Linked DNA regions of Homo sapiens: all the other regions are linked to region 4. The links come from fine-mapping of genetic effects on gene expression. A gene starts in region 4. Each other region holds a variant in brackets. All regions are shown on one strand. Distances are from middle to middle. Region 1 overlaps IHO1 (interactor of HORMAD1 1). Region 2 overlaps BSN (bassoon presynaptic cytomatrix protein). Region 3 overlaps BSN (bassoon presynaptic cytomatrix protein). Region 4 holds the start of UBA7 (ubiquitin like modifier activating enzyme 7). Region 5 has its middle 5.3 kb from the start of HYAL1.

Region 1 (5,000 bases), 590 kb after region 4:
AAACCAACCTTGGTGGTTCAGAGAGGACAGAAAATGGAGCATGCCAATTACCTGGTAGGGCTTGTTACCAGTGTGGTTTGCAAGGACACTTTAAAAGAGTGTCCAATGAGAAACGAGCTGCCCCTTCACTTATGTCCATTATGCCAAGGCAATCACTGGAAGGTGCACTACCCCAGAGGACAAAGGTCCTCTGGGCCACAAGCCCCCAACCAGATGATCCAACAACAGGACTGAGGGTGCCCGGGGCAAGCGCCAGCTCATGTCATCACCCTCACTGAGCCCTGGGTATGTATAACCATCGAGGGCCAGGAAATTGACTTCCTCCTGAACACCGGCACGGCCTTCTCAGTGTTAATCTCCTGTCCCGGGCGACTGTCCTCAAGGTCTGTTACCATCCAAGGAGTACTGGGACAGCCTGTAACCAGGTATTTCTCCCACCTTCTCAGTTGTAATTGGGAGACTTTGCTCTTTTCACATGTCTTTCTTGTTGTGCCTGAAAGTCCCACACCCTTATTAGGGAGGGATATATTAGCCAAAGCTGGAGCTATTATCTACATGAATATGGGGGAATAAGTTACCCATTTGTTGTCCCCTACCGGTGGAGGGAATCAACCCTGAAGTTTGGGCATTGGAAGGAACAAACTCAAGCTCCAGCCTTAAGCCTTCCCACAGGACAAAACTTTTCTTTTTTTTTTTTTGAGACGGAGTCTCACTCTGTCACCCAGGCTGGGATGCGATGGCGCAATCTCTGCTCACTGCAACCTCTGCCTCCTGGGTTCAAGTGATTCTCCTGCCTCAGCCTCCTGAGTGGCTGGGATTACAGGCACCCACCACCATGCCCAGCTAATTTTTTATTTTTAGTAGAGACGGGGTTTCACCATGTTGGTCAGGCTGGTCTTGAACTCCTGACCTGATGATCTGCCCGCCTCAGCCTCCCAAAGTGCTGGGATTACAGGCGTGAGCCACTGCGCCCAGCCAAAACTTCTCTTTATACATCACAGAGAGAGCAGGGATAGCTCTTGGAGTCCTTACTCAGACCCGCAGGACAACCCCATAACCAGTGGCATACCTAAATAAAGAAACTGATGTAGTAGCAAAAGGCTGGCCTCACTGTTTACGGGTAGTTGCGGCAGTGGCCGTCTTAGTGACAGAGGCTATCAAAATAATACAAGGAAAGAATCTCACTGTCTGGACTACTCATGTAAATGGCATACTAGGTGTCAAAGGAAGTTTATCGCTATCAGACAACTGCCTACTTAGATACCAGGTGCTACTCCTTGAGGGAATGGCCCTTCAAATACATACATGCGTAGCCCTCAACCCTGCCACTTTTCTCCCAGAGGATGGGGAACCAATCAAGTGTGACTGCCAACAAATTATAGTCCAGACTTATGCCGCTCAAGATGATATCTTAGAAGTCCCCTTAGCTAATCCTGACCTTAACCTATATACCGATGGAAGTTCATTTGTGGAGAATGGGATACGAAGGGCAGGTTATGCCATAGTTAGTGATGTAACCATACTTGAAAGTAAGCCTCTTCCCCCAGGGACCAGCGCCCAGTTAGCAGAACTAGTGGCACTTACCAGAGCCTTAGAACTGGGAAAAAGAAAAAGAATAAATGTGTATACAGATAGCAAGTATGGTTATCTAATCCTACATGCCCATGCTGCAATATAGAAAGAAAGGGAGTTCCTAACCTCTGGGAAGAACCCCCATTAAATACCACAAGGAAATTATGGAGTTATTGCACACAGTGCAAAAACCCAAGGAGGTGGCAGTCTTACACTGCCAAAGCCATCAGAAAGGTGAGGGAGAAAAGGCAGAAGGAAACCGTCAGGCAGATGCTGAGGCCAAAATTGCTGCCAGGTGGAACCTCCCATTAGAAATACCTACGGAAGGATCCTTGGTATGGAACAACTCCCTCCACGAGATTAAGCCCCAGTATTCCCCGACTGAAACAGAATGGGGACTTTCATGGGGGCATAGTTTTCTCCCCTCGGGGTGGTTAACAACAGAAGAAGGAAAGGTACTTATGCCTAAAGCCAGACACCAGAAAATACTTAAAACGCTCCACCAAACTTTTCATATGGGTATTGAAAACACTCATCAAATGGCCAAATCCCTATCTACAGGGCCAAATCTCTTCCGGGCCATCCAACAGGTAGTCAAAGCCTGTGAGGTGTGCCAAAGGAAGAATCCTTTGGTCCATCGTAAGGTCCCTTTGGGGGAACAAAGAATAGGTCACTATCCTGGAGAGGACTGGCAGTTAGACTTCACCCATATCCCTAAGTCAAACGGATTTCAATACTTGTTGGTCTGTGTTGATACCTTTACAAATTGGATAGATGCTTTTCCCTGCAAGACAGAGAAGGCTCAGGAAGCAATTAAAGTCCTAATACATGAAATAATTTCTAGATTTGGGCTTCCCCAAAGCTTACAGACCAACAATGGTCCGGCTTTTTTTTTTTTGAGACGGAGTCTCACTCTCTCTCCCAGGCTGGAGTGCAGTGGCGTGATCTCGGCTCACTGCAAGCTCTGCCTCCCGGGTTCGCGCCATTCTCCTGCCTCAGCCTCC[C/T]GAGTAGCTGGGACTATAGGTGCCCACGACCACACCCAGCTAATTTTTTTTATTTTTAGTAGAGACGGGGTTTCACCGTGTTAGCCAGGATGGTCTCAATCTCCTGACCTCGTGATCCGCCCGCCTCGGTCTCCCAAAGTGCTGGGATTACAGGCATAAGCCACACACCTGGCCAATGGTCAGGCTTTTAAAGCCATGATAACTCAGGGAATTTCGAGGGCACTAGGGATACAATATCACCTTCACTGTGCCTGGAGGCCACAATCCTCAGGGAAGGTCGAGAAAGCAAATGAAACACTCAAAAAGCACTTAAGGAAACTAACACAAGAAACTCATCTCCCATGGCCTAGTCTTTTGCCCATGGCCTTGTTAAGAATCTGAAATTCTCCTCACAATATGGGGCTCAGTCCATATGAAATGCTGTATGGACAACCTTTTATCACAAATGACCTCCTACTTGATCAGGAAACGGCCAACTTGGTCAAATACATAACTTCTTTGGCAAAATATCAATGAAACCTTAAAAACCTACCTGAAGGATGTCACAGAGAAAAGGGAACAGAGTTGTTTCAACCAGGAGATCTAGTGTTGGTCAAATCTCTCCCATCTACCTCTCCATCTATGGATTATTTGTAGGAAGGACCATACTCGGTAATCCTTTCTAACCCCACTGCAGTTAAGGTGGCAGGAGTGGAATCTTGGATTCACTACAATTGAGTTAAATTTTGGACACCCCCTGCGGAACCTGCAGGACCGTCAGTTCAGGAGTCCCAAGATCACCCAGACCAGCCTCAATAAACTTGCGAACCATTGGAGGACTTGCATCTCCTATTTTGAAAGGAAATATCCCAGACTAAAAAGGCTCCTACCACTGATCCTGAGGAAAAACCCTTTCCTCCTTAAAAAAGATAAGTGAAAACCTACATAATCTTTAATACCTCTCCTTGCCCCTTTAATGGAATCCTTTTACTATTTCATAATATTATTAAGCAGCATACTAACCATACTCTTTACGATAGGACTACATACTATAGCTCCTGCTGGGATGCAAATCCTAATCACATCAACCTTTTTTCTATCTTCCTTCCTTCTGACAGCAATTTACTCCCACCTTTAACTCAGACTGGATAAAATGATCTCGTGTTCCAGAGCACCCTCCTTACCTTCCTATTTACTCTTTGCCTATCTATCCCTCCTGCTTCCTTGGACACCTCATACAATTGCCCCTCCCCTTCCCCTAGCTCCTAATTACCTGTACAAGACTCTCAACTTAACCCACTCTCTGTTAAACCAGTCCAATCCTTCCCTGGCAAATGACTGTTGGCTTTGTAGCTCTCTATCCGTCAGCGCAGAGCCATACAACTAATACCCCTACTTATAGGGTTAGGAACAGCTATGGCTACAGAAACCAGAATAGCCAGTTTATCTACTTCATTATGCTACTACCACAGACTCTCAAAGGATTTCTCAGACAGTTTGCAAGAAATGACGAAATCTATCCTTACTCTACAATCCCAAATAGACTCTTTGGCATCACTAACTCTCCAAAACTGCTGAGACCTAGACCTCCTCACTGCTGAGAAAGGAGGACTCTGCACCTTCTTAGGGTAAGAGTGCTGTTTTTACACTAACCAGTCAGCGATAGTACAAGATGCCACCCGGCGTTTATAGGAAAAGGCTTCTGAAATCAGACAGTGCCTTTCAAACTCTTATACCAGCCTCTGGAGTTGGGCGACAAGGCTTCTCCCCTTTCTAGGCCTCCTGACAGCCATCTTGCTATTACTCGCCTTCGGGCCCTGTGTTTTAACATCCTTGTCAAATTTGTTTCCTCTAGTATCGAGGCCATCAGTCTATAGATGGTCTTACAAATGGAACCCCAAATGAGCTCAACTAACAACTTCTACCAAGGACCCCTGGATTGACCCACTGGCCCTTTGGCTGGCCTAGAGAGTTCCCCTCTGGAGGACACTACCACAGCAGGGCCCCTTCTTCGCCCCTAACCAGCAGGAAGTAGCTATAGCGGTCATCACCCAATTCCCAACAGCAGTTGGGGTGTCCTGTTTAGAGGGGGGATTGAGAGGTGAATCCAGCTGGACTTCCTGGGTCGAGTGGGGACTTGGAGAACTTTTCTGCCTAGCTAGAGGATTGTAACTGCACCAATCAGCGCTCTGTGTCTAGCTAAAGGATTGTAAATGCACCATCAGCACTCTGTAAAAAACGCACCAATCAGCACTATGTGTATAGCTAAAGGATTGTAAACGCACTAATCAGCACTCTGTAAAAATGCACCAATCAGTGCTCTGTGTCTAGCTAAAGGATTGTAAACGCACCAATCAGCACTCTGTAAAAATACACCAATCAGCGCTCTGTGTCTAGCTAAAGGATTGTAAATGCACCAATCAGCACTCTGTAAAAATGCACCAA
Region 2 (5,128 bases), 230 kb after region 4:
CATCTTGATAAATAAATAAATAAATAAATAAATCGGATTGCAAGAGAATACTATGAACAACCACACATCCTTAGGTAATTTAGATGAAATTGACAAATTCCAAGATGCAAACTATCAAAACTGACTCAGGAAGAAATGAAAAATCGGAATAGACCTATAACACATAAATAAACTGAATAAGTAATTTTAAAACTTCCCACAAAGAAAAGCTTATGCTCAGTTGTCTTCACTGGTGAATCCTACTAACCATTGAAAAAGAATTTATTTTTTAAAAATTTTATTTTATAACAGACAGGGTCTTGCTCTGTCATCCAGGCTGGAATGCAGTGACACAATCATAGCTCACTGCAGCCTCGAACTCCTGAGTTCAAGTGATCCTCCCACCTCAGCCTCCCACAGTGCTGGGATTAGAGGCATGAGCCACTGTGCCCAGCCAAAAATAAATTAATATCAACAAAGATACTACAAGAAAACTACAGATCAATTTTCCTTATGAAAAGAGATGCAAACATCCTTAAGAAAATACTAGCACACTGAATTCAGCAGCATATTAGAAGTATTGTACATCCTTCTATTGGGCTTTATTTCTGGAATGCAAGGTTGACTGAACATCCAAAAATCAATCAATGTTCCAGACACAGTGGCTCACACCTGTAATCCCAGCACTTTGGGAGGCCGAGGTGGGCAAATCACTTGAGGCCAGGAGTTTGAGACCAGCCTGGCCAATATAGTGAAACCCCATCTCTACTAAAAATACAAAAATTAGCCAGGAGTAGTTGCACGCACCTGTAATCCCAGCTACTCTGGAGGCTGAAGCAGGAGAATCTCTTGAACCTGGGAGGCAGAGGCTGCAGTGGGCCAAGATTGCACCACTGCACTCCAGCCTTGGGAACAGAGCAAGACCCTGTCTCATAAATAAATAAATAAATAAATAAATAAATAAATGTAATACACCATATTAATAGAATGAAGGGAATGAAGGGAAGAAACTATATGTTTACCTCAATTGATGCAGAAAAAGCATTTGACAAAAGTCAATACACTTTCATGATTCAAAAGACTTAAGCTAGAAATAGAAGGGAACTTTCTCAATATGATAAGGACTATTTATGAAAAGTTCACAGCTAACATAATACTCAATAGTGAAAAATTAGAAGCTTTCCCTTTACAATCAGAAACAAGACAACGATGTGCAAGGAAGTTTTACCATTTCTATCTAACATAGTACTGGAAGTCCTAGTCAGAGCTATTGGGCAAGAAAAAAAATAAATAAAGGACATCCAAATTGGAAAAGAAGAAGTAAAATTATCTCTACCTGCAGACCACATGATCTTACATGTAGATAACCCTAAACAGGCCACAAAAAAGTTAGAACTAATAAACAACTTCAGCAAAACTGAAGGATATAAAATCAACACACAAAAGGCAGTTCATTTCAGCTGGGCCTGTAGTTCCAGTTCCTCAGTAGGCTGAAGCAAGAGGGTTGCTTGAGCCCAGAAATTTGAGCCTGTAGTGTGTTATGACTGCAAATGTAAATAGCCACTGAACTCCAGCCTGGGCAACACAGCAAGACCCTGTCTTGAAAACAAAAATAGGCAAAGGACTTGAACAGACATTTCTCTAAAGATTTACAAATGGCCAATAAGCCATTGATTAGAAAAATGCAAATCAAAACTACAATAAGATACCACTTCACACTCTTTAGGCTATTACTAAAAACAAACAAAATAAACAGAAAATAACAAGTGTTGACAAGGACGTGGAAAAATTGGAACCCTCATACAATGATGGTGGAAATGTAAAACGGTACAGCTGCTACAGAAAAATTTTTGGCAGCGCCTCGAAAAGCCTAACATAAAATTACCATATGATCCAGGAATTCCACTCTTAGGTTTATATCCAGAGGAAGTAAAACCAGGGACTTGAACAGATACTTGAATGCCAATGTTTATTACACCATTATTCACAATATAGTAGCCCCCACTTATCCTCAGGGGATATGTTCCAAGACCCCCAGTAGATGCCTATATACACAAAGTTTGTTTTTTTTTGTTTTGTTTTTTGGGTTTTTTTTTGAGACAGAGTCTTGCTCTCTCTTCAGGCTAGAGTGCAGTGGCGCGATTTCGGCTCACTGCAACCTCTGCCTCCTGGGTTCAAGCAATTCTCCTGCCTCAGCCTCCCAAGTAGCTGGGACTACAGGCGCGTGCCACCATGCCCAGCTAATTTTTGTATTTTTAGTAGAGACAGGGTTTCACCATGTTGGCCAGGATGGTCTCGATCTCCTGACTTTGTGATCCGCCCACCTCGGCTTCCCCAAGTGCTGGGATTACAGGCGTAAGCCACCATGCCCAGCCTTGTTTTTTCCTACATATACAAACCTATGATGAAGTTTAATATATAAATTAGGCACAATAAGAGATTCACAATAACTAATAATAAAATAGAACAGTTATAACAATATACTGTAATAAAAGCTATATGAATGTGTTCTCTCAAAATATGATTGTACCATACCGTGGGTAACTAAAACCACAGAAAGCAAGACCGCAGATAAGGGGGGACTACTGGAGTCAAAAAGTAGAAACAACCCAAGTGCCCATCAATAAATGGATAGGCCAGGCGCAGTGGCTCATGC[C/G]TGTAATTCCAGCACTTTAGGAGGCTGAGGTGGGCAGATCACTTGAGGTCAGGAGTTCAAGACCAGCCTGGCCAACATGGCGAAACCCAGTCTTTACTACTAAAAATACAAAAATTAGCCTGGCATGGTGGCACACTTCTGTAGGCCCAGCTACCTGGGAGGCTGAAGCATGAGAATCACTTGAGCCCGGGAGGCAGAGGTTGCAGTGAGCCAAGATTACACCACTGCACTCCAGCCTGAGTGATGAGAGCAAAACCCTGTCTCAAAAAGAAAAAAAAAAAAAAGTTAACAGGCGCTGAAGAAAGGGGTCAATGGGGAGGTGCTGGTTAATGGTCAGAGTTTGGGGTGATTAAAAATTTTAGAAATAGATAGTGGTGATGGTTGCACAACATGAATCATGAATATACAGTAATTAATGCCACTAAATTGTACACTTAAAATGGTTAAAATGGCAAATTTATGATATTTATATTTTATCACCATTTTTAAAAGATTAATAATGTGACCAGGCACAGTGGCTCATGCCTGTAAATCCCAGCACTTTGGGAGGCAGAGGCAGGAGGATTGCTTGAGTACAGTAGCTCGAGACCAGTCTAGACTATATAGTAAAACCTGATATCTACAAAATATTAAAAAATTAGCCAGACATGGTGGTGCATGACTGTAGTCCCTTTGGGAGGCTGAGATGAGAGGACTGCTTGAGCCCGGGAGGCTGAGATGAGAGGACTGCTTGAGCCCAGGAGGCTGAGGCTGCAGTGCGTCATGATCGCACCACTGCACTCCAGCCTCGGTGACAGAGCAAGATCCTAAAAAAATTTATAATGTAATACGTAATAAACCACTGAATTATACTCTTTAAATGGGTAAATTTTCTGGCATATTAATTATATCTCAATAAAACTGTCTTAAGATTTCATATTAATCTTTCACAAACTCTTCCAAAAAATAGAACAGGATAAAACACTTCTCAACTCATTCCATGAGGCCACAATTACCCTGATATCAAAACCACACATAAATTGGATGTGGTGGCACATGCCTGTAGTCCCAGCTACTCAGGGGAATAAGGTGGGAGGATCACTTGAGCCCAGGAGTTTGAATCTAGCCTCAGGAACATAATGAGACCCTGTATCTAAATAAAATGAAATAAACAAAATAAAATAATCAAATTAAATTTGTAAAAAAACAGACATAAACATCACAAGAAAACTTTAGACCAATATATCTTGTTACTATAGATGCAAAAATTATAAACAACTACTAGCAAAACAAATCCGGTGACATATAGAAAGGATTTAATATAATAACCAAATGAATTTTTCTCAGACATGCAATTATGGCTTAACATCTAAAAAATCAATTAATATAGCATATTAATAGAATGATGGACAAAAACCATCTATCAAGATTACAAAAACTACATGATCATCTTGATAGATGCAGAAAGCATTTCATACCTTTTCCAATTCAATACCTTTTTATGCTTAAAAAAATTTAACAGACTAGAAATAGAAAGGAATTTCAATTTTTTAAAGCGCATCTAGCCAGGTGCGGTGGCTCACACCTGTAATCCCAGCACCTTGGGAGGCCGAGGCTGGTGGATCATGAGGTCAGGAGTTCGAGACCAGCCTGACCAACATGGTGAAACCCTGTCTCTACTAAAAATACAAAAAAAAAAGAAAGAAAGAAAAAATCAGCTGGGCGTGGTGACGGGCGCCTGTAATCTTAGCTACTTAGGAGGCTGAGGCAGGAGAATTGCTTGAACCCTGGAGTCGGAGGCTGCAGTGAGCAGAGATCCTGCCACTGCACTCCAGCCTGGGCAACAGTGCGAGACTCCGTCTCAAAAAAAAAAAAAATTGTAAAGCGCATCTATGAAAAACCCATACCTAAAATCATACTTATTGATAAATGGATAAAATGTGGTACATCCATACAATGAAATATCACTGGGCAATAAGAAGGAAAGAAGTAACTGGCTGAGTGCAGTGGCTCATGCCTGTAATCCCAGCACTTTGGGTGCCTGAGACAGGAGGATCACTTGAAGCCATGAATTTGAGACCAGCCTGGGCAACATAGGAAGATTCTGTCACTTAAAAAAAAAAAAAAAATTAGCCAGGCATGGTGGTGCATGCCTGTAGTCCTAGCTGCTTGGGAGGCTGAGGTGGGAGGATCTCTTGAGCCCAGGAGTTTGAGGTTACAGTAAGCCATGATCATACCACTGTACTCCAGCCTCCATGTCCTCTGGGTGACAGAGTAAGATTCCCTCTCTAAACAAATAAATGAATAAAGGAATGAAGTGCTGATACACACTACATCTTACATCCTGGATGAGCCTTGGAAAACACACTAAGTGAAAGAAGCCAAACCCCCAAAACACACATTGCATGATTCCATTTATATGAAATGTCCAGAATAGGCAAATCTAGAGAGGTGGATAGTAGATTAGTGGTTACCTTAGGCCTGGAGGATAGATAGAGGGGGGAAGAATGGAAA
Region 3 (5,128 bases), 150 kb after region 4:
ATGCACGGCCTGGCTCTTTAGGGTCTAAGAGGGCAAGTACCCACGAGAGAATCTGAACACAGGTACCCTATAAGGTGGGAAGGTGAGAAGGAGGCTAGGGAAATAAAGAGAAGAAGGTAAGAACAGGAAGACAAGGGGTGGGAGAAGGCAGAAAAAAGGAGGTTGAGGAAGGGAAAGAAGAAGAAAGGGAAAAAAAGGCAGAGAAGAGCAGGAAAGGGGAAGGAAGGAGGGAGCAAGAAGCCATGGTCCCCACCCTGTGCTCACCAGTGCCTTCCTGCTTCTCTGCCCAAAGCTGCTTGGGCCCTAAAGCCCCTGTGCTGGTGACCTCATTGGCTTATTCTAACCCCAGGCTTGTTTTCTGCTGGGGAGGTCTACAGCCCCTGGGGCACCTTCTCAGGGATTAGTGAGGGCATGCAGTGTGGGGGAGCTCAGGGCACAGGTGGTATAGAGAGAGAACAGCCTGGGTGCTCTGGGCCACAGCCAAGGGTGTCAAAGGATAGGCTCACCTGCAGGTCCAGGTCCTGGTGCTGGCTGGGCCTGAGGAGCCCTCCCCTGTTGCGGTGCTTTGGCTGTCCCTTTAGAGCCATTTGTCTGTTCTGCCCGTGGCTGCAACACAGAACCTATAGCTAAGATTCTGCCCATGCCCAGCCTGGAACCAAGGGGATGTCCAAGCTTCATTCATAGCATCTTCCCTGGTTACAACCCATGCATGGGAGCTCTGCTTACCGGTCCTGCTGGTTGAGGACCTGTGGCTGTGCTGGGGCCTGGCTGAGGCTTCCCTGCAGGCTGGCTGGCAGCAGGGGCTGAGCCCCGGGTGGTTGGCTGGCTCTGTTGCTGCAGCCGAGCCTGTGTCAGAGCCTGCTGTGGGGGCTGCAGCCCAAGACCTTGCTGCTGCTGCTGTGTCTGTGGCTGGCGTGATGCTGCCCCAGAGGGTATTTGCCTGGATGATGGTGACTGTGACTGCTGTGGTCCTGGAGCTGCCTGCCGACCTTGCAGCTGCGGCTGCGCCTGGGGTTCTGCCTTTGACTGCAGTGCAGCGGGCCCGGAGTGGGCTTGCCGGGAGCCCTTCTTGCTGTCAGAGGCATGATGGTATGCGGATGAAGCACGGGATGGCTGTGAGTACTCAGCAGAGCTGGGATACCCAGGCTGACCCTTCTTCGGCATAGCTGGAGCAGAGCTGGGCTGAGAGTGGGGCCGGGCCTCATGGCGACCCAGGTCCCGAGCGTGTGGTTTGGCAGCACGCCGTCCCGGCTCCTCACCAGTGTGGCGGCCTGAGTGCCGCCCGTGGTCACCGTGCCGGTGTTCCTTGGCTGAGGCATGGCGGCCTGGGCCACCCTCATCATGAGGCCACAGGCCCTCCTCAGGGGGTTCATCGTAGTCATGGTAGCTGTGCCTGGCAGGGCCTCGCTTCTGGGAGGAGGAGGAAACTGCATGGCCCCCGTGGTGCCTGAACCGGTCAGAGCGGGCATCCCGGGGCTTATCAAACCAGTCCGTCTCCTCCTGGCCCAGGTGATACGCTTCAGAGACCAAAAACAGAATACCATCAACCCCCGGGCTAGCCGCAGGGGGAGGCCTAGCTGAAGCCATGCAAAGAAACCAAGAGAGTGGGTGCCACAGCCACAAGCAGATCAGCAGGCCCCCAGCCCACCCTCCCGCAACCACGGACCAGGGCACAGATGGAGCAGGCAAGGGCAGCCTGCCTGCAGCAGGGCCCACCAGATGAGGCGCCAGACCAGACCCTGCTGGGACATCTTAGGGCCCAGGGCCCCACAGGTAGGCAGGCCCCCCAGCTGCTGAGTATCCGCAGAAATCACCCCTGGCTGCCATTACCTTCGCTGTCGGAAACCACGCAATGGGAATCATCCAGGATGTAGCCCTCCTCACGCTTATATGCGTGGGCCCGAGGTCCGTCCTTGACATGTTCCTGGACATCAGGCATGGAGTGGCTGGAGCAGAACTGTGGGCAGGTATCCCCGCCGGGAGGGAGGGGCCCTCCGGCAGGGCGGGGCCTCCCCAAAGGACTGACGGGGCTCTCCTCTTCAGAGGCCTGGCTCCGCATGGGGGGTCGTACCCGGCTGTGGGCCATACTTAGGGATGAGGGCTTGGGGCCCGCTTTTTGAAGTCGCTCCACAGCCTCCCGTTCCCTTTCGTACCCCTTGCCCCAGCCACTGAAGTCGTGGCTGGACAGCTTCTCCCCACTGTATGCAGAAGGTGCCCGGGACCGGCTGCTCCCGCCATAAATGCGGTCGTCCTCCACTGCGTCCCGGCTGGACATCCCATAGTATTTTTGCTGCTCATACACGTTCTTCTTGAGCCCATAGGTGATTTCATCCTGGAACTTCCTGCCCCGAGAGACCAGGCTGCTGCTGACTGCAGGTGGGGGGTAGGACGCCAGGTCTGACTCTACGTCTTTGGCCTCTTCAATAGGCGAGAACTTGGATATCTTTTGCTCCATGCCCTGCTTCCGGTGCTTGCTGCGCTTTGAGGAGATGGCAGCTGGAGCCAGGCTCTTGGAGGGATGCTTGGGCCCCATGGGCCCTGGACCATACTTCTCTACTCGAGCCCCATGCCTGTAGTCACTGTCACCATAGTAGTGGGTACTGGCTGGTCGACCATTGCTCTCCATGCTCCGGAGGTGGCCACCCTTCCCGCGGGGATCGTATGAGTCCTCCTCAGATTCCTCTTCTCCTCTGGCATAGCAGCAGGGCAGTGTGGGCCCGTCAAGGACACCTGGTTCTCCAGGCTCCTTCCCTGGACGCCCACTGCTGCCTGGCCCCAGGGGCTCCAGCCGTTGGCTATCAGGAGCAGTAGAGGTGCTGTCCTTGGTCAGTTCACTGATGTCATCAATCATTACGTAGTTTCGAGGAACGTTCTGCTCCAGACTGGTATAGTGTGAGTCAGAGGGGTAGGTGGGG[G/T]CTGGGCTCTGGCTCACACTGCCACGGTCACCAGCCCGGGGCACCTCAGGGACCTTGCCCTGCTCATAGCCGCTGCTCACTGCTGGGCCACTGTAGCTGGTTTCAGATGGGGCTGAAGACATGGGCACAACGGGGCTGGCGATCACCTCATAGTTGGTGGGCACCTTCTGCTCCAAGTCGGCTAGCGATGTCTGGCGTGGCTTCTGCAGTGGGGCACGGCTATCAGCGGGGACTGGAAAAAGGGTGCTCTGTGTGGTTGGCATGGGTGTTTGGCCTGCATAGTGGCCTGTGGGGCGGAAAGCCTGCTGGTTTGGCAGGCCAGGCTCAGCTGGGTAACTGGCACCAGGAGGAAAGGCAGGAGCTGGGTACGTGCTGGGGCCAGGGTAGGTGGGGGCCTGGTGGGCTGGGAATCCGTTCTGAGTTGGCCCACCACTGCCTGCAGAATACTGTGGGGCTGGAGGCTGGAAGCGGGGCTGCTGGAAGGCAGTGGGACCAGAGGGGGTGGCAGGAGCAGCGGCAGTGGCAGGGAAGTCCACAAACTGGCCAGCGGGAGTGGTGCAGCCCTGGAGCCGCAGCTGGTTGAGCTCACTGTCCGATAGGTAGTCACGATGCTCGCCAAGACCACGCAAGGGTGGGTAGTCACGGCCACCCCGGTCTTTGGCCAAAGACTCTTTGCGTTGTGTGATACCCAACTCCAGGTACTTGAGCTTGGCGTCAATCTCCTTCTCCTCCTCATCCAGCTCTGCCTGCTTCTTGCGCAGTTTGGTGGACTCATGCTCCACCAGCCGCAGGTCCCGGTCCAGCTCCCGGAGCAGGCTGGCCTTGGTAGCAGGGACAGTGGTGGGCCCCGTCAGCCCTCGCTGCAGCAGGCTGGCTGCATACAGCTGTGGGGAGGCCTGGCCAGCCAGGGGAAGGTGAGCCTCCTCTGGAGGGGGGCTGGGCAGTGTCCGCTTCACCTTGCGGACCAGGCTGTTGGGTGGCAACGCCGACACCTGAGACAGAGGGAAGGGTGGGCAGCACTGAGACCCAAGGTGTGGTGACTTGATGGGGTGTGGGGTGGCAGAACCCAGGCCTGGGCTGGGGAAGGAGCTGGGTTCCATCTTGCTGGTGCCCTGATTTACCAGGCAGCCTGGAGGCCTACCCTGCCCACCCATAGGCCTTGGTTTCTTTGCCATAGAGGGAAGATCTGTGATTATTTTACAGCCCTTCTCTTTCCCAGAGCTTTGGGAAGCAGGAGGGTACGGGCAGATTCCCTTCATGCCAATGTCCTGTACTGGCCCAGCACATGGCTTTGAGAACCCCTGCACATCTCCAATGGGCCTGCCACCCTCTGCCTCACATTGAGGTAAGAAGAGTACAGCTGTGGCTCTGGGTTTGGGGCCTAGCAGCTGACAGGGGTTGAGATCAGTGGAGTATGAACAGGAGGCATGGAGTGGAGAGGGTCCTGGGCCCGCCAGGCTCCCTAGAGGATCATGGGAAGGGACACATGTAGATTGTATGCCAATCGTGGCAGGCTCTGAGTCATTCTGCATCCTGCCCTAGTCCTCTCTAAAGTGGAAGGCTCCTCAGCTGCCTGCCCACCCTCTTCCTCTAGTGCCCTGCACTGCCCTCTGCCAAACCCTCTGGGCTGTGCTCTTGGCCTGGTCCCCAGCTCCCTCCATGTCCCTCGGTCAACCTGCTGTTCTCTGGAGCCACCAGTGCACCCGTAAGTCCTATCCAGCCCTACCTCCAGCAGCATGGCTTCCTGGTCAAGGTTCCCTAACAGTGCCTACCATGGGGTCCTCCTTGCCTACCCTAGACACTCTGCATTGCCTGAAGGTCCACATTGCCTGGTAGTTCACTCTGTCTTCTCCCTTTTTCTCTCGCTCCTAGCCTTCCCAGAATGCCCCATGCCCTTGGGTTTCATGGACCACCCAAATTCCAATATATACTGGGAAGTGACTCCTATAGGATTCTTACTTTTTACCTTGCCAAGTAACTACCTAAAAACCTCCCACCTACATCCACCATATGTCATAATAAAAATTATAGTGTGCCCTCAAAATTTCAGGGTGGGCCTTTTATGGAATAAATTTAGCCTTTTGAACCCCTCACTCTGTTGTCTCTTTTCTTATTTTGGCCACGCATCATGAGTGCCTATCATGGCCTGGTCTCACATGGCCAGCCCATGGGACCTCTGTGCCTGCAGCCAGGACCACCCTGCCTCTCTGACC
Region 4 (5,128 bases):
ATCTATTTCTATTTTAATGAGAGTTTTAAAAAGCAGGAATGGATATTGAATTTCCTTAAATACTCTTTGGAGTCTATTAAAGATAGCATTTTACTTCAAAATCCAGCCCTGGTTTCTGTACCTAGTACTTCTGTCACACCAGTAAATGTTATTGAATGAAAACAAACAAAAGACCATAAAGACATACCTCTTCACGTTCACTAGGATTGGTGTCATTTTTTTAAAAAAAGGAAAGAAAAATAACCAGTATTGGCAACAGTGTGGATATATAGAAATTTTTGTATATTGCTGGTAGGAATATAAAATAGGGAAAACGGTTTGGTGGTTCCTCAAAAAGTTCAACATAAACCCAGGCGCGGTGGCTCATGCCTGTAATCCTAGCACTTTGGGAGGCTGAGGTGGGAGAACTGTTTGATCCCAGGAGTTTGAGACCAGCCTAGGCAATATGGTGAGACCTCATCTCTACAAAAAATTAGCTAGGCATGGTGGCGCATGCCTGTAGTCCCAGCTACCTGGGAGGCTAAGACAGAAAGATCACTTGAGCCTGGAAGGGAGTTTGAGGCTGCAGTGAGCCCAGATTGCGCCACTGCACTCCAGCCTGGGTGACAGAGTGATATCCTGTCTCAAAATAAATAAATAAATAATAAACAAACACAGAATTACCATATGACCCAGCAACTCTACTCCTGTGTATATGCCCAAAAAAGCTGAAAGCCCAGGCGCTGTGGCTTACACCTGTAATCCCAGCACTTTAGGAGGCCGAGGCACTTGACCCCAGGATTTTGAGACCAGCCTGGGCAACATAGTACTTGTTCAAGAATCAGGCTGGGCATGGTGGCTCACACCTGTAATCCCAGCACTTTGGGAGGGCAAGGTGGGAGGATCACTTGAGGCCAGGCATTCGAGACCAGCCTGGGCAAGATAGCAATACCCACCCCCAATCTCTACAAAAGCAAGTAATTAATTAGGAAATTAGCCAAAGCCAGGTGCGGTGGCTCACGCCTGTAGTCCCAGCACTTTGGGAGGCTGAGGTGGGCAGATTGCTTGAGTCCAGAGATTCGAGACCAGCCTAGGCAACATATCAAAACCCCGTCTCTACTAAAAGTAAAAAAAGAAAAATTGCACTCTGGGAGGCCAAGGCGGGGGGATCACCTGATGTCAGGAGTTCAAGACCAGCCTGGCCAACATGGTGAAACCCCATCTCTACAAAAATACAAAAGTTAGCCGGGCATGATGGCAGTGTCTGTAATCCCAGCTACTCAGGAGGCTGGGTCGGAAGAATCATTTGAATCCAGGAGGCGGAGGTTGCAGTGAACCAAGATTGTGCCATTGCATTCCAGCCTGGGTGACAGAGCAAGCCTCCGTCTCAAAAAAAAAAAAAAAAGAAAAATTAGCCAGATGTGGTGGTGCATGCCTGTGGTCCCAGCTACTCAGGAGGCTGTGGTGGGAGGATTGCTTGAGCCCAAGACACTGAGGCTGCAGTGAGCCATGATCACACCACTGCACTCCAGCCTAGGCAACCAGAGTGAGACCCTGTCTCAAAAACAAACAAACAAACAAAAACCACTTTAACAGGGTATGGTGGTGCACACCTCTAGTCCCAGCTACTTGGGAGGTTGAGGCAGCCGGATCACTTGACCCCAGGAGATCGAGGCTGCAGTGAGCTGTGATTGTGCCACTGCAGTCCAGCCTGGGCAACCGAGTGAGACTGTCTCAAAAAGAAAAAAAAAAAAAAAAGGACATAGCAGCACTATTCACAAATCCAAAAGTTAGAAATAACCCAGATGTCCATCAACAGATGAATGGATAAACGAATTGTGGTATATACATATAATGGACTATTATTCAGCCATTAAAAGGAATGAAATATTGATACAGGCTATAAACTCTATGAACATTGAAAACATTCTAAGTGAAAGGAAATAGACATAAGAGGTCACATTTTGCAATTCTTTTTTTTTTTTTTTTTTTTTTTGAGACTGAGTCTCACTCTGTTGCCCAGGCTGGAGCGCAGTGGCTCGATCTCAGCTCACTGCAACCTCCATCTCCCGAATTCAAGCAATTCTTCTGCCTCAGCCTCCCGAGTAGCTGGGATTACATGTAGGCATGCACCACCATGCCTGGCTAATTTTTGTACTTTTAGTAGAGATGGGGTTTCACCATGTTGGTCAGGCTGGTCTTGAACTCCAGACCTCAGGTGGTCCACCCGCCTTGGCCTCCCAAAGTGCTAGGATTACAGGTGTGAGCCACCATGCCCGGCCACATGTATGGTAATTATTGAATGTGTTTGGTATGTTCGTTGTGGGTGATGAAATATTTTGGAACTAGATAGACGTGATGGTTGAACAACACTGTGGATGCACTAAATGCCACTGAATTGTACACTTTAAAATTGTTAACTTTATGTTACATGAATTTCACCTAAATTAACAACAACAACAAAAAAGAACTTAAGACAGCACTTGGTTTGGCTATTACGTAGTTTCGTGACAAACAGTGGTCCATCTCCCAGAGAACTGGCCCCAGGTTCCTAAGAAGGCAAAAGGAGACACAGGACCTCTCTGCACTATTTTTTTTGCAACTTCTTATGAGTCTATAATTATTTCAAAATAAAAGTCTAAAAGGAAAATAAGAACATGTGTGAATGTGGCTGCCCCATGCCTCCCACCCTCAGGTCTGACACTCAGAGACTGATCACCTCTTGAGAGTCCTGGAACTCATCCCAGGTTTTAGACCCTGAATGGCCTGTCTGGGGCTGGCGTCTGGAGGCAGGATCAGGAGCCAGCTCAGAGCATAGTTTAACTTTCACTTTTCTTTTCTCCAGGAAGAGAGCTGTGACCAGCAGCGTCCCTTATTCGCTTGGCCTTGGTTCCTGTTTGCACTGGCTACAGCAGGGCACTGGCCCCTACTGTCACCGCCACCTACACAAAGACCCTATCTCTGAGCGCTGCAGCCTACTGTTCAGCCCCAGGTTTGAGGATGGATGCCCTGGACGCTTCGAAGCTACTGGATGAGGAGCTGTATTCAAGACAGCTGTGAGGCCCGAGGTGGGGGGTGGAGAGTGGGATGGTCTTCAGACCTTGATCTACAACTGCTTGCCTTCTGCTTCCCATCCACAGGTATGTGCTGGGCTCACCTGCCATGCAGAGGATTCAGGGAGCCAGGGTCCTGGTGTCAGGCCTGCAGGGCCTGGGGGCCGAGGTGGCCAAGAACTTGGTTCTGATGGGTGTGGGCAGCCTCACTCTGCATGATCCCCACCCCACCTGCTGGTCCGACCTGGCTGCCCAGGTAAGTGTCCTGGGGGGCTATGGGCTGCCAGACCAAGGTGGGGGCACGGCCCAAGAGGAGTGTCTTTGCTCAGGCTGCACTGGCTCTCTCCCTAGTTTCTCCTCTCAGAGCAGGACTTGGAAAGGAGCAGAGCCGAGGCCTCTCAAGAGCTCTTGGCTCAGCTCAACAGAGCTGTCCAGGTCGTCGTGCACACGGGTGACATCACTGAGGACCTGCTGTTGGACTTCCAGGTCAGCTCAGGCCTGCAGCCCTCAAGAGCAGGAAGGGCTGGGCAATGGTTTTGGCCCTGCTGATCACTGTGTCCACCCAGGTGGTGGTGCTGACTGCTGCAAAGCTGGAGGAGCAGCTGAAGGTGGGCACCTTGTGTCATAAGCATGGAGTTTGCTTTCTGGCGGCTGACACCCGGGGCCTCGTGGGGTGAGTAAGACTGCCTGCCCAGCCTACCATATTACAGCCAGCAACTGGCCTCATGCTGTCCTCAGCTCCAGGCTTGCTCCAGTGCCCCTCCAACCAGCCTCAGGTCTATCCCAGCATGCCTTTCTGATTCTGGTCCCCAGTCCTGCCCTCTGGTTCCTCCAACCTAGCCTCCAGACCTGCTCCAGTAACCCTCTCAAATTCTAGTTCCCAAGCCTCTCCTTGCATTCCTTTCCCAATTCTGGCCCTCTGGCCCTGCCCTAGTATCCCCTATCCTTAAGTACAATCTGTAAGCCACCTCAGTGACCCCTACCACCCCATCTCAGGCAGTTGTTCTGTGACTTTGGTGAGGACTTCACTGTGCAGGACCCCACAGAGGCAGAACCCCTGACAGCTGCCATCCAGCACATCTCCCAGGTGGGTGCTGAGCTGTAGGCATTCACCTGCTGACCAAGGAGAGGCTGCCAGGGCCTGTGGAAGGCAGGTCCAGGCAACCCTGAGCCAAGCCTCCTCCTACCCAGGGCTCCCCTGGCATTCTCACTCTGAGGAAAGGGGCCAATACCCACTACTTCCGTGATGGAGACTTGGTGACTTTCTCGGGAATTGAGGGAATGGTTGAGCTCAACGACTGTGATCCCCGGTCTATCCACGTGCGGGGTAAGCCAATCCCATTCCAATTCCAGGTGCAGGGCCCAAGCCTCCACTGGAAGTGAGCACAGCCTGGCCCTTGGGATGGGTTTTTCTCCCTCCACCTTCTACAAGGTGCAGCAAGGTCTGGGACACAGATGCAAGATAGGATGGGGTGTGGGAACTACTCAGGCTCAAGGATCATTACTGACTAGACTGGAACTCCCTCAGAGGATGGGTCCCTGGAGATTGGAGACACAACAACTTTCTCTCGGTACTTGCGTGGTGGGGCTATCACTGAAGTCAAGAGACCCAAGACTGTGAGACATGTGAGTGCAAGTGCATCTGAGGTAGGGGAGCTTGGTCGCCTTGAGGGGCCCATAGCATTCTGGACTAGACCCTGAGCCAGGTGCCCTTGCAGAAGTCCCTGGACACAGCCCTGCTCCAGCCCCATGTGGTGGCCCAGAGCTCCCAGGAAGTTCACCATGCCCACTGCCTGCATCAGGCCTTCTGTGCACTGCACAAGTTCCAGCACCTCCATGGCCGGCCACCCCAGCCCTGGGATCCTGTGAGTAGTCCTGTTGCTCCCACCCCCAGCCTCTGTCATTTATTGGGGTCCCACCTGCCAGAGGCAACAATGACCATTCACAAATCCAAGTCTGATCTCCCAACACTGCAGCCTTTAGAGTAGAGACTGGTTCCATGGAAGTGCCAGGCACACATCCTGGGGACTCCTGCTACACCCCGACCCCTCAGATCTGTGCTGGAAGCTGCACTCAGATTAGTGAAGCCTCCTGGA
Region 5 (5,128 bases), 490 kb before region 4:
CGCCCCGTCCGGGAGGGAGGTGGGGGGGGGTCAGCCCCCCGCCTGGCCAGCCGCCCCATCCGGGAGGTGAGGGGCGCCTCTGCCCGGCCGCCCCTACTGGGAAGTGAGGAGCCCCTCTGCCCGGCCAGCCGCCCCGTCCGGGAGGGAGGTGGGGGGGTCAGCCCCCCGCCCGGCCAGCCGCCCCGTCCGGGAAGGAGGTTGGGGGGTCAGCCCCCCGCCCCGGCCGGGAGGGAGTTGGGGGGGTCAGCCCCCCGCCCGGCCAGCCACCCCGTCCGGGAGGTGAGGGGCGCCTCTGCCCGGCTGCCCCTACTGGGAAGTGAGGAGCCCCTCTGCCCGGCCACCACCCCGTCTGGGAGGTGTACCCAACAGCTCATTGAGAACGGGCCATGATGACAATGGCGGTTTTGTGGACTAGAAAGGTGGGAAAGGTGGGGAAAAGATTGAGAAATCGGATGGTTGCCATGTCTGTGTAGAAAGATGTAGACGTGGGAGACTTTTCATTTTGTTCTATACTAAGAAAAATTCTTCTGCCTTGGGATCCTGTTGATCTGTGACCTTACCCCCAACCCTGTGCTCTCTGAAACATGTGCTGTGTCCACTCAGGGTTAAATGGATTAAGGGCGGTGCAAGATGTGCTTTGTTAAACAGACGCTTGAAGGCAGCATGCTCGTTAAGAGTCATCACCACTCCCTAATCTCAAGTACCCAGGGACACAAACACTGCGGAAGGCCGTGGGGTCCTCTGCCTAGGAAAACCAGAGACCTTTGTTCACTTGTTTATCTGCTGACCTTCCCTCCACTATTGTCCTGTGACCCTGCCAAATCCCCCTCTGCGAGAAACACCCAAGAATGATCAATAAAAAAATAATAATTAAAAAAAAAAAAGAAAAAAAAAAGAAAAGAAACCACAGTGGCCGATTGCAGTGGCTCACTCCTGTAATCCCAGCACTTTGGGAGGCCGAGGCGGGCAGATCACGAGGTCAGGAGATCGAGACCATTCTGGCTAACACGGTGAAACCCCATCTCTATTAAAAATACAAAAAAAAAATAGCCGGGCGTGGTGGTGGTTGCCTGTAGTCCCAGCTACTCAGGAGGCTGAGGCAGGAGAATGGCGTGAACCTGAGAGGCGGAGGTTCAGTGAGCTGAGACCCTGCCACTGCACTCCAGCCTGAGTGACAGAGCGGGACTCTGTCTCAAAAAAAAAAAAAAAAACACACAGCTTAGTTTTCAGTGACTCCAAATTAGGAAAATGAAAAAAAAGAAGGAAAAAAATTGAAAACTTAATTTGAAGACTTGTAGCCAAGAAAAATTCATTCCAAACTGTAGAAAATCATAAAAATTGGAAGCAAACAAACAAAAAAACAGTTAAGACTAGAATCTAACAACAGGTGAACATTCGTTTTGAAACATGATTTTATTCTCTCTCCAATTTCCCATTTTACTAAAGACAAATCATGGTATGACTTGTTTGCTTATTATACTTGGCCTAAATATTTGTATACAGTGCAGCAAGAATAATTTATTTTGTCCCATAAGAGGAATCTCAGGTAAGACTTTTTAAAGCCCTGCCCAGCCATGGATTTGTGCCATCAAATACCCATGAGTTGGATGGAATTTCCTCTCCTTTCAAGTTCCAAGATAAACATAAACCTGGGGCCTCTGTGCCTGTCAGAAAGTGACATCCTTTTTTTTTTGATCAGGCTAGTCTTGAATTCCTGACCTCAGGTGATCCTCCCGCGTTGGCCTCCCAAAGTGCTGGGATTACAGGCATGAGCCACCACTCCTGGCCCCAGAAAGTGACATTCTTTACTTACCACAGGTAAGAAATCCTGTACAGGGACTGTGTACACAAAATGTGAGGCCAGTTTTCCCAAGGGCTTTATTGGCTCCATAAGTTAAGTTTGATTCCTTAAACGAAAGCACACCATTCCTGTCAAAGTCTTGGTCAAATAATCAATTCCTCCAATTGTGTCCTGTTACAAATGAAAACAGATTCTTTTTTTTTTTTTTTTTTTT[G/TG]GTGGAGTCTGGCTCTGTTGCCCAGGCTGGAGTGCAATGGTGCAATCTCAGCTCACTGCCACCTCTGCTTCCCAGGTTCAAGCGATTCTACTGCCTTAGCCTCTGGAGTAGCTGGGATTACAGGCATGTGCCACCATGCCCAGCTAATTTTTGTGTTTTTAGTAGAGATGGGGTTTTGCCATGTTGGCCAGGCTGGTCTCGAACTCACAACCTCAGGTGATTTGCCCACCTTGGCCTCCCAAAGTGCTGGGATTACAGGAGTGAGCCACCATGCCAGGCAAAAACAGATTCTTATGGCACTTATGCAAATAACTGTATTGCCATAAGTTAAGAATACTCACAAATAGTTTCCAAATTCTGGAGAAATCAGGTAGAGAAACAAATATGCTCCAAATTTTGTTCATAGGACTGTACTAAATTGTTAAAAGCTGTTGGCCAGGCACGGTGGCTCACGCCTGTAATCCCAGCATTTTGGGAGGCCGAGGCAGGCAGATCACGAGGTCAGGAGTTCAAGACCATCCTGACCAACATGCTGAAACTCTGTCTCTACTAAAAATACAAAAATTAGCCAGGTGTAGTGGTGTGCACCTGTAATCCCAGCTACTCGGGAGGCTAGGGGAGGAGAATCGCTTGAACCCAGGAGCCAGAGGTTGCAGTGAGCCGAGATCCTGCCATTGCACTCCAGCCTGGGTGACAGAGTGAGACTTCGTCTAAAAAAAAAAAAAAAGGCCAGGCACGGTGGCTCATGCCTGTAATCCCAGCACTTTGGGAGGCCAAGGTGGGCAGATCACGAGGTCAGGAGATCGAGACCACGGTGAAACCCTGTCTCTACCAAAAATACAAAAAATTAGCCGGGCGCGGTGGTGGGCGCCTGTAGCCCCAGCTACTCAGGAGGCTGAGGCAGGAGAATGGCATGAACCTGGGAGGTGGAGCTTGCAGTGAGCTGAGATCGCGCCACTGCACTCCAGCCTGGGTGACAGAGCGAGAATCCATCTCAAAAAATAATAATAATAATAATATATAATACGACAACGTGGCCTGACATGGTGGCTCACGCCTGTAATCCTAGCATTTTGGGAGGCCAAGGCAGGCGGATCACCTGAGGCGAGGAGTTTGAGACCAGCCAAGCCAATATGCTGAAACCCCATGTCTACCAAAAATACAAAAATTAGCCAGGTGTGGTGGCACATGCCTGTAAACCCAGCTACTGGGGAGGCTGAGGCAGGAGAATCACTTGAACCCAGGAGGCAGAGGTTGCAGTGAGCCAAGATTGCACCACTGCACTTCAGCCTGGGCAACAAAGCAAGACTCTACCCTGAAGAAAAAAGTATACGACAACTTGATTATATAAAAGTTTTTGGGTTTTTGGCCGGGCACGGTGGCTCACACCTGTAATCTCAGCACTTCTGGAGGCCGAGGCAGGTGGATCACGAGGTCAGGAGATCAAGACCATCCTGGCTAACATGGTGAAACCCTGTCTCTACTAAAAACACAAAAAAATTAGCCAGGCATGATGGCGGGCCCCTGTAGTCCCAGCTACTCAGAAGGCTGAGGCAGGAGAATGGCGTGAACCCGGGAGGCAAGCTTGCAGTGAGCCGAGATTGCGCCACTGCACTCCAGCCTGGGTGATAGAGCGAGACTCCGTCTCAAAAAAAAAAAAAAAGTTTTTGGGTTTTTTGTGACTTACACTGACTGTTCATGACATGGTTGGACTTTCCAATTTGTTCTGAACATCCCTCCTTTTTATTTATTTTGGGTTTTTTTTTTTTTTTTTTTTTTTTCAGATGGAGTCTTGCTCTGTCACCCAGGCTGGAGTGCAGTGGCATGATCTCCGCTCACTGCAAGCTCCGCCTCCCGGGTTCACGCCATTCTCCTGCCTCAGCCTCCCGAGTAGCTGGGACTACAGGCGCCCACCACCACGCCCAGCTTAATTTTTTGTATTTTTAGTAGAGACAGGGTATCACCATGTTAGCCAGGATGGTCTTGATCTCCTGACCTTGTGATCCGCCCGCCTCGGCCTCCCAAAGTGCTGGGATTACAAGCGTGAGCCACTGCGTCCGGCCCTATTTTGGTTTATTTTTTATTTTTTATTTTTTTCTTGAGACTGAGTCTTGCTGTCACCCAGGCTGGAGTGCAGTGGCATGATCTCAGCTCATTGCAACCTCTGCCTCCCAGGTCAAGCGATTCTCCTGCCTCAGCCTCCCAAGTAGCTGGGATTATAGGCACACACCACTAAGCCTGGCTAATTTTTGTATTTTTAGTAGAAACAGGGTTTCGCCATGTTGGCCAGGTTGGTTTCAAACTCCTGACCTCAAATGATCCTCCTGCCTCAGTCTCCCAAAGTGCTAGGATTATGTGTGAGCCACTGCACCCGGCTTATTTTTTTTTTTTTTTAGCAGAGTCTTGCTCTGTCACCCAGGCTAGAGGGCAGTGGCGCAATCTCAGCTCACTGCAACCTCCGCCTTCCAAGTTTAAGTGATTCTCCTGCCTCAGCCTCCTGAATAGCTGGGATTATAGGTGTGGGCCACCATGCCTGGATAATTTTTGTGTTTTTGTTGTTGTTGTTGTTGTTGTTGAGATGGAGTCTTGCTCTGTCACTGAGGCTGGAGTAACAGTAGCATGATCTCGGCTCACTGCAACCCCCACCTCCCAGGTTGAAGCAATTCTCCTGCCTCAGCCTCCTGAGTAGCTGGGATTACAGGCACCCACCACCATGCCGGGCTAATTTTTGTATTTTTAGTAGAGATAGGTTTCACCATGTTGGCCAAGCTGGTCTCAAACTCCCGACCTCAGGTGACCCGCCCACCTCGGCCTCCCAAAGTGTTGGGATTACGGGTGTGAGCCACCACTCCCAGCCAAAAAAAATTTTTTTAATCTTATTACCATATTTCAGCTAGAACAAAATGCTGCTAAAGTAACAATGATCACACAAAGTATATGATTTCTGAGTGCTGTAAGTGTAAGCAGAAGTTAACACCAGCTGGTTGTTAAATGCTAACTTTAGTCATTTAAAGGAAATTGCAAGGCAGAATCCCAAGCCAGTTTCTTACCTAGTGATGGGTCTCAGGCTGTAGACTGCTCTCTACCATCCCAGAAGCAGGAAAAAAAAACTA

Evidence for each region.
Region 1: its variant is fine-mapped to the expression of UBA7 in whole blood (TOPMed, PIP above 0.99).
Region 2: its variant is fine-mapped to the expression of UBA7 in whole blood (INTERVAL, PIP above 0.99).
Region 3: its variant is fine-mapped to the expression of UBA7 in whole blood (INTERVAL, PIP 0.96).
Region 5: its variant is fine-mapped to the expression of UBA7 in whole blood (INTERVAL, PIP above 0.99).

What each region holds. Positions count from the first base shown.
Region 1 is chr3:49,221,161-49,226,160 of GRCh38, reverse strand. All of the region lies in intron 2 of IHO1 (interactor of HORMAD1 1), which reads right to left. Among named protein-coding and RNA genes, the nearest start is that of IHO1, 24 kb to the right of the region's middle. The variant C/T (reference allele first, on the strand shown) is at 2,577.
Region 2 is chr3:49,578,770-49,583,897 of GRCh38, reverse strand. The region is part of intron 1 of BSN (bassoon presynaptic cytomatrix protein); the gene reads right to left. Among named protein-coding and RNA genes, the nearest start is that of BSN, 27 kb to the right of the region's middle. The variant C/G (reference allele first, on the strand shown) is at 2,636.
Region 3 is chr3:49,659,265-49,664,392 of GRCh38, reverse strand. It overlaps BSN (bassoon presynaptic cytomatrix protein), which reads right to left. Exons shown (of 12, transcript NM_003458.4): 6 at 1,831-3,907; 7 at 727-1,517; 8 at 507-606. Among named protein-coding and RNA genes, the nearest start is that of APEH, 13 kb to the left of the region's middle. The variant G/T (reference allele first, on the strand shown) is at 2,916.
Region 4 is chr3:49,811,639-49,816,766 of GRCh38, reverse strand. It overlaps UBA7 (ubiquitin like modifier activating enzyme 7), which reads left to right and starts at 2,814. Exons shown (of 24, transcript NM_003335.3): 1 at 2,814-3,035; 2 at 3,120-3,288; 3 at 3,384-3,518; 4 at 3,599-3,705; 5 at 4,029-4,119; 6 at 4,224-4,359; 7 at 4,561-4,658; 8 at 4,751-4,897. The coding sequence starts at 2,980. RefSeq lists enhancers at 2,691-3,080, 4,808-5,128.
Region 5 is chr3:50,306,349-50,311,476 of GRCh38, reverse strand. It overlaps a transcript of HYAL1 not described here. Among named protein-coding and RNA genes, the nearest start is that of HYAL1, 5.3 kb to the right of the region's middle. The variant G/TG (reference allele first, on the strand shown) is at 2,016.